Linked DNA regions of Homo sapiens: regions 2 and 3 are each linked to region 1. The links come from fine-mapping of genetic effects on gene expression. A gene starts in region 1. Each other region holds a variant in brackets. All regions are shown on one strand. Distances are between the middles of the regions. Region 1 holds the start of NME2 (NME/NM23 nucleoside diphosphate kinase 2). Region 2 holds the start of TMEM92 (transmembrane protein 92). Region 3 overlaps SGCA (sarcoglycan alpha).

Evidence for each region. PIP is the estimated chance that this variant, and not a neighbour inherited with it, causes the effect.
Region 2: its variant is fine-mapped to the expression of NME2 in minor salivary gland (GTEx, PIP 0.97).
Region 3: its variant is fine-mapped to the expression of NME2 in spinal cord (GTEx, PIP 0.98).

Annotation. Positions count from the first base shown.
Region 1 is chr17:51,165,154-51,167,653 of GRCh38, forward strand. It overlaps NME2 (NME/NM23 nucleoside diphosphate kinase 2), which reads left to right and starts at 1,258. Exons shown (of 5, transcript NM_002512.4): 1 at 1,258-1,344; 2 at 1,674-1,803. The coding sequence starts at 1,678. It overlaps NME1-NME2 (NME1-NME2 readthrough), which reads left to right. Exons shown (of 9, transcript NR_037149.2): 6 at 1,674-1,803. RefSeq lists silencers at 1,099-1,728, 1,989-2,188 and an enhancer at 1,211-1,819.
Region 2 is chr17:50,272,581-50,275,080 of GRCh38, forward strand. It overlaps TMEM92 (transmembrane protein 92), which reads left to right and starts at 1,886. Exons shown (of 5, transcript NM_153229.3): 1 at 1,886-1,990. The coding sequence starts at 1,922. RefSeq lists silencers at 491-830, 1,968-2,262. The variant G/T (reference allele first, on the strand shown) is at 1,077.
Region 3 is chr17:50,174,682-50,177,181 of GRCh38, forward strand. It overlaps SGCA (sarcoglycan alpha), which reads left to right. Exons shown (of 10, transcript NM_000023.4): 9 at 576-768; 10 at 1,031-1,247. The coding sequence ends at 756. Among named protein-coding and RNA genes, the nearest start is that of SGCA, 9.9 kb to the left of the region's middle. RefSeq lists enhancers at 172-773, 1,067-1,361. The variant C/T (reference allele first, on the strand shown) is at 1,110.

The DNA.
Region 1 (2,500 bases):
TTCACAGTTGACATTTGGTAATCCAAATGAGAGTGTGTTTCAGATCGAAGCCAAAAAATAACAGTGCCCCCAGATGAGGGCACATGACAGTCATTGTCAATGTGTGGTGGGCTAATGCTCTGTAACTAGAAGTTTGGAAAGCCGATAAGGTATAACAGAGGCCAGATTGTCATCCATCTGGCCAGTGACAGGTGATCAGCGCAGTGCTAGGGGCACTCGGGTGATGGCATGATTGCTGTGGTCAGCTCAGAGTCCTGAGGGGAAGCAAGCGGGCTCTCACCATCTCAGGGCAGTACCACTGCTGTGCGGCTGTCAGTCAGTGCTGCAGGCGCCGAGAGGAGGGGCTTGTGACCGCCCCAGGGAAGCTGGGCATCACCAAAGGGAGCTTGTTTGCCAGGGACACTGCAAGTAGGAAGTGTCTACAGGTCGATGACAGGCCTAATCTCTATGACAGGGTCTAGACTTTCCTCAGGGTCCAGGGGCGCACCTCAGGGTGAACTGGAAAACTCGACCGCACTTTAGTGCCAGGTGGGCAGGGATCCCCATGTCAGGGTGGGAGTGGGGCGGCTGATTGGGGCTGGAAATGTAGGTGGGGAGGCGGCAGCCAGGGAGCAGGGCATCCTGCGAGAAGAGCATCCCGCTAAGGAGTCTGAACGCCATCCTGTAGGCGGGGGAGTCATCAAGGCAGGGCAGAGGCAGGACCAGATGGCCGTTTGAGGTGCTGAGCAAAGCTCCCGGTTTGCGCGGAGAGGTGAGATCGAGGCCCCTTGGGAGGCCGAGGCTTAACCAGGGCTCAAGCAGAGGGGAGGGAAGGCTGGATTTCAGAGGTAGGGAGGATAAGGACCGTGGGTGCACGACGGGGAGGGAGAGCCAAGTCAAGGTTAATGCCGGTGCTCGGGCGGATGGTGAAAGCAGCAGATGGCCTTGACCGGGGTAGAGAACTCGAGCACAGGAGCAGGTTCTGTGTGTGTGTGTGTGTGTGTGTGTGTGTAGGAGCTTTTGGGGTCACGGGAAGTACTGAGAGGTGAGGAGTGGGATTTGGGACGTGCGTAGTTGAACTCATAGGACGTCCAGGTGGAGAAGGAATCACTTCCTGTCTCTGGATCCGTCTCGATCTCTGCCTGGCGAGGGCGCGCCCCGGCTGGGCGTGGACACTGTTCTCCGGCCGCGTCGGGCCGGGCGGGTGGGGCGTTCCTGCGGGTTGGGCGGCTGGGCCCTCCGGGGTGTGGCCACCCCGCGCTCCGCCCTGCGCCCCTCCTCCGCCGCCGGCTCCCGGGTGTGGTGGTCGCACCAGCTCTCTGCTCTCCCAGCGCAGCGCCGCCGCCCGGCCCCTCCAGCTTCCCGGTAAGGCGGTGGGGGCGCATCCCCTGGCGACTCCTCCCGTTCCCTCTTCCGCTTGCGCTGCCGCAGGTGGGCCCGGTCTGTGGGCGCCCCCCGATTTCCCGCAGGTCCCGCGCGGCGTCGGAGCGGGAGATTCCCTTGCAGCTTGCGCCCCGCGGGCCTTCGGGCTCCGCAGAGGGACGCCGGCCCTGCGCGGGGCGGAAGCGGCCGGGAAGCCACGTGTCCCCGCGGCCGCGCGTGGTGGGGGAGGAGGGACCGGCGGCGCCCACGTGGCCTCCGCGGGCCCCGCCAGAGCCTGCGCCCGGGCCCTGACCGCACCTCTCGCCCCGCAGGACCATGGCCAACCTGGAGCGCACCTTCATCGCCATCAAGCCGGACGGCGTGCAGCGCGGCCTGGTGGGCGAGATCATCAAGCGCTTCGAGCAGAAGGGATTCCGCCTCGTGGCCATGAAGTTCCTCCGGGTAACTCGCCCCCGTCTCCCCTTCCCCGCTGCAGCCGGCTCGCGGGTGTTTTTCCCTCCCGGCGGCGGTTTGTCCGCGTCTGCTTTCCGAGTTCATTTCGCTGCCGCGAAATCCCTTTGCCCTCTGCCCCCGCCCACGGCGGCTTGGGCCCGCCGACCCTTTCCCGGGGTGGTGGGGACAGACGCCCTTGGGAAGGTGAAGCGCTGGTAGCGTGACTCGCCCTCCGGGTTTGGGTTCCTTCCCGCGGGCCGCTACCTGCCCACCCGCCGCAGGGGGGCAGCAGGGAGCGGAAAAACCCCGGGCCCCAGACCCCCTGCGCCTGCCCACTCGGGTCCACCTAGGCACAGAATGGAGGCTTGGAATCTCCTTTGCTTTAGTCTGAAACTCCGAGTTCCAGTGCGGTGCTCCTCCTTTAGCATAGGGTAGTGAGTGTATTTTCCACATTAAATTTGGGGCACAGATCTGAATCCCTACACTTACGGGTAAGAATCTAAGTACTGAAATTCAACCAGGCTCATCGGTGAAGAGAATGTTCTCAGTTATTATCTGAAATATTTAAAAGGGCATTGTGAGTAGCCCAGGGGAGTTTAACATGACCTCTGCCAGGCAGATGACCTGACATATGTACTTCAGTTGCAGCCAAAATTTAATTCCCTAAATCTAGATCCTCAAACCACCTACTTTTTAGGCTTACAAA
Region 2 (2,500 bases), 890 kb before region 1:
TTCCCTTCTCCAAGCTCACAGTCACTTCAAATACAGAGGGGCCAGATCCCAATACCCCTCGGATCAGGAGACTAGAAGATTATCTTCTTAAGGGGCAAAAAGGGCTAGGAGGTAATGGGAAATAGAGACAGGGAAAGGGAGAGAGAGAGCAGGGAGACAGCATAAGAAACAGACCGAGAGACTGGGGGTGCAGGACCAAACCAGGGACAAGGAGAAGGGACCAGAGAAACCGAGAAAAACAGACGCCTCCGCCGAGGCAGACAGAGGTGAACAGAGAGAGGAGAAACAGACGGGAGAACAGAGGGAAAGGCTGGGAACTCGAGAGAAACTGGGTGCGGACAGATGGGAAGAAACCGAAACAGAAAAACAGAGGCTGGGAGAAACGGGGAGAGACACAGAGGGGTTAAATATAAGACAGAGAACATGACTGGGAGAGATGAGGGAGAAGGGTGAGAGGCAGAGAGCAAGGAAAGAGAAGAAACGCCCACGACGTCGGGGGTGTTTTTCAGGGGTCAAGACAGATTGGCGACACAGCAGGAGGCGCCCAAGGACATGACGTTGAGCCTCTCAGGGTCCCCCTTGGCCGGGCCAGGGAGCAGCGCCCCACGCTCCATCACCCCCTCTCCCCCTCCCGCGGTCCTGGCTGCACTGCTCCTGCCTCGCCCTCGCCCAGCGCCCCCAGCCCACAAGCCCCGGCCGCGCCCCTCCCGGCTCCCGGGGGCACCCGCGCTGGGCGACGCTGCCACCTGCCGGCCGCTCCCGGAAGCTCCGCGCCTGGAGTGCTGGAGGCGGCGGCCGCAGGGGGCTCAGAATCAGGCCCCTCCGCACTGGGGCGGCCTCCGCGGGGTCTTTCCAGGAATCTGGATGGGCCTGCTCGCCCGCGCCCCGGCGGGCCTGGCAGAGGACCAGCCCCAGCTGCGGACCCCGGGGCAGTCTAAACCCTGGGGCCTTGAGTTCCCGTTTTGTCAATGGGAGAAAATGCACCAACACCTCCTGTAGGATTTCAAGAGGGGAGGGGACACGAAGGTACCCACGTTGTGCTCCTGGTCTTCCTTCCTCGACCTGGAAATCTCAGG[G/T]CACTCTGAAATCAGCCAGGCTGCTCTGTCCCTCCCTTTTTGGTCAAAACACAATGGGGTGATATCCCCCAACCATAACCCCTCAAAATCTACCCTAGAACCTTCGCCTTCCCCTCCCTCAACCTCTGCCCCCATTTGACTTCTCACCAGACCCAGAGGTCCAGATAAGAAGGGGCTTCCACGTCCCCTTCCCACTCCCGCCGGTCCCGGCACCCCTCCCTGGAGTCTGGGGCACTTAGGAGTGGAGGAGTTGGGAGTTAGGAAGGCCCAGCTCAGCGGTGTGGAGTTGATCCCACCTCTTTTTAAATTTAGGTTATTTATTTATTTATTTATTTATTTAGAGATGGAGTCTCACTCCGTCGCCCAGGCTGGAGTGCACTGGCACGATCTCGGCTCACTGCAACCTCTGCTTCCCGGGTTCAAGCGATTCTCCTGCCTCAGGCTCCTGAGTAGTTGGGATTACAGGCACCCGCCACCACGCCCGGCTAAATTTTGTATTTCTAGTGGAGACGGGGGGTCTCACCATGTAGGCCAAGCTGGTCTCGAACTCCTGACCTGAAGTGATCCTCCCAAAGTGCTGGTATTACAGGCGTGAGCCACCGCGCCCGGGACCGCTTTTTTAAAAATCCGTTAATCTCTTCTACCTCCCAAATCCCAAAACCCAACCCAGACCTCTGCGCCTCCCTTCCTCCCTTCCTCCTCCCAGCCCCTCCCTGCCCCGAGTCCGCCTCTCCCGGTGCAGCTCCGCCCCCATCCCGAGGCGGGGCCCCATAGGTGGAGAGAAGTGGGAGAGGTCGCAGCCCCGCCTTCTCTACACAGGAAAGCTCAGTGGCCCCCAAGCCAGGATGTCCCAAGCTTGGGTCCCCGGCCTCGCGCCCACCTTGCTGTTCAGCCTGCTGGCTGGCCCCCAAAAGGTGAGACTGGGAGGTAAGGTTGTTGAACTTTTGGGCCCTACCCTTGTAGGTCAGGAGCCTGCTTCTGGAGCCTGGTCGCCACCTTCCAGAATCAGGATTTCCTCCTGACCACACACAGTTAGCTACTTCCTTTCTCTCTTTGCTGTGGAGGTGGAGGTGGGGGCAGCGGAGGAGGCTCTGGGAGAGGCTGGGTTCTCCCACCTCTGAGGGGGATCCTGTGGTGGGAAGTGGCCACCACCCACCACCTTATCTGACACCTAGCACGTCTCTGTGAATAGGGACTTTGGACCCCTTATTAGCCTCAGCTTATCCTTCCAGCTCCTTCCCGCCTGAGCTTTGGACACCTGGGCCAGCACTTAGCCCCAGCTCAGTTCCTCCAGTGCTGGGGGACCCTGGGATGTCCCCACCCTCTTTGGGACTGTGTCTCTGCTTGTTCCCTAGGGGAGAGAAGGCTCTTTTGTCCCCTTCTAGGGGTAAGTAATCCCAGCCTGTGGTGGGATTTGACCTGGC
Region 3 (2,500 bases), 990 kb before region 1:
AGCAAACTAAGGCATGGAGTGGTTAAGCAACTTGCCCAAGACACACAGCCTTGAACCCAGGCTGTCTACACCCACAGCCTATGTCTTGACCACTGGGCACTGAGCAGGCACCATAGAGCTTTCTTTTTTTTGTTTTTTTTCTTCTTTTTTTTACTTTGAGATGGAGTCTCTTGCGATCTCAGCTCACTGCAACCTCCGCCTCCCAGGTTCAAGTGAATCTCCTGCCTCAGCCTCCTGAGTAGCTGGGATTACAGGTGCCCACCACCACACCTGGCTAATTTTTATTTTTATTTTTTGTAGAAACAGGGTTTCACCGTGTTGGCCAGGCTGGTCTCGAACTCCTGACCTCAAGTGATCTGCCTGCCTTGGCCTCCCAAAGTGCTGGGATTATAGGCATGAGCCACCACGCCCGGCCCCATAGAGCTTTCTGTTTGTTTTCTGCCCCTGCATCATGTGTCTGAGTCTCTCCCCACATAAGTGGTGGGGAGGACCGCAGGGTGGCTCAGAGGCAGTTCCAGGCTGTACTCCAGGGCAGCTGACTCCCAGAGCTGATGACTCCCCACCTGTGCCTCCAGCATCCAGATGGTCCACCACTGCACCATCCACGGGAACACAGAGGAGCTGCGGCAGATGGCGGCCAGCCGCGAGGTGCCCCGGCCACTCTCCACCCTGCCCATGTTCAATGTGCACACAGGTGAGCGGCTGCCTCCCCGCGTGGACAGCGCCCAGGTGCCCCTCATTCTGGACCAGCACTGACAGCCTAGCCAGGTAGGTCTGGTGGGTGATGCCAGCCTTATTTCTGGGAACAAGATGGCCTTTATCACAAGGCTGGGGCAAATGGTGGGGTCTGGGAGAGGTCAGGGGAAGAGGCACATAGACTTGTCTGCCCCTCTGAGGCCGCTGCTGGGGGTCCTCACCAGTGCCAGGGCTATGACCCCAATGCCAAGCACTCGCAGTTGGAGTGTCAGGGTGGGGAAGTCAGGAGAACCAGCATCTGGCCCTCTCAGCCCTCCACTCTCTCTTCCCACAGTGGTTCCAGGTCCAGCCCTGACTTCATCCTCCCTTCTCTGTCCACACCACGAGTGGCACATCCCACCTGCTGATTCCAG[C/T]TCCTGGCCCTCCTGGAACCCAGGCTCTAAACAAGCAGGGAGAGGGGGTGGGGTGGGGTGAGAGTGTGTGGAGTAAGGACATTCAGAATAAATATCTGCTGCTCTGCTCACCAATTGCTGCTGGCAGCCTCTCCCGTCCTCACTGGCTCTGTTTCCCTTTGTGCTTTCTGGGAGGCCCCATAGGCAGCCAGTGCCTGCCGGCCTGCCCTTTGGACTCTTGGCATTTTGCTGTTTTCTCAAATTCTCTGGAAGAAAGAGGGAAGGACCTGCTATCTGTAGCCCTCCCACGAACCTGGTAGTGAGGTATGCCTGGATCACTATCCCCATTTCACAGACAAGGAAACAGAGACCAAGGGAGAGTCAGTGACTTACCCAAGGCTACAGAACAAGCAAGTGGCAAAGCTTGAATTTGACCCTGGCACTTCTGCCTCCACCCTGCCTTCTACAGGGTTGAGGGGTTCTGGAAGCAGGAAATCCAGACCCTTACCTGTAGATTTCTTTGGCACCTCAAGATTCCCTGGAAGGAGAGTCCCTCTGTCTGTTGTGTTTGGAGAGAAGCCAATCTAGATATGGAGAGCGAGGCCGGGCGTGGTGGCTTACACCTGTAATCCCAGCACTTTGGGAGGCCAAAACAGGCAGATCACTTGAGGTCAGTAGTTCGAGACCAGCCTGGCCAACATAGTGAAACCCCATCTCTACTAAAAATACAAAAATTAGCCAGGCATGGTGGCACGTACCTGTAATCCCTGCTACTCGGGAGGCTGAGGCAGGAGAATCACTTGAACCCAGGAGGTGGAGTTGCAGTGAGCCGAGATCACACCACTGCATTCCAGCCTGGGTGACAGAGCAAAACTCTGTCTCAAAAAAAAAAAAAAAAAAAAAAAGATATGGAAAGAGGGAGGTTGGAATGCGGGTCCCGGAATGCCCTAGGCTCAAGGACTACCCCCCGCCTTGCTGAGCTCCTCCAGAGATGGGCAGGGGTGCAGAGGACACAGCACAGCCTGGGACCCTTGTTGGACTGAGTGGTGCTAGCACAGCTTGACCCCACACGAGCTCAGAAGAGCTCAGCTGGCCATGAGAAGGCCTGAGCTTGTTTTTCCCAGGTGGACACAACCAAATGGGGCCGATTCTGCCCCGATCACTGCCATCTGGCCATGTCCAGGCTCATATACTCCCACTCCCACGTGAGGACAGGCCAGGGACTCAGCCCGAGAGGGGCCCGGCTAAAAGAGGGATAGCTGGCAAGGCCCTCCCCTAGTGGCAACTCCGAGAGAACACAGACAAGGGCTGGCATCACCACTCCAGCCTCCTTCTCCTTTTCCTCTGCTGGGAGGCCCTGGCTCCCACATCCACACAACTAGCCCCTCACTGCAGGTTCTGTCTTTGCCCAA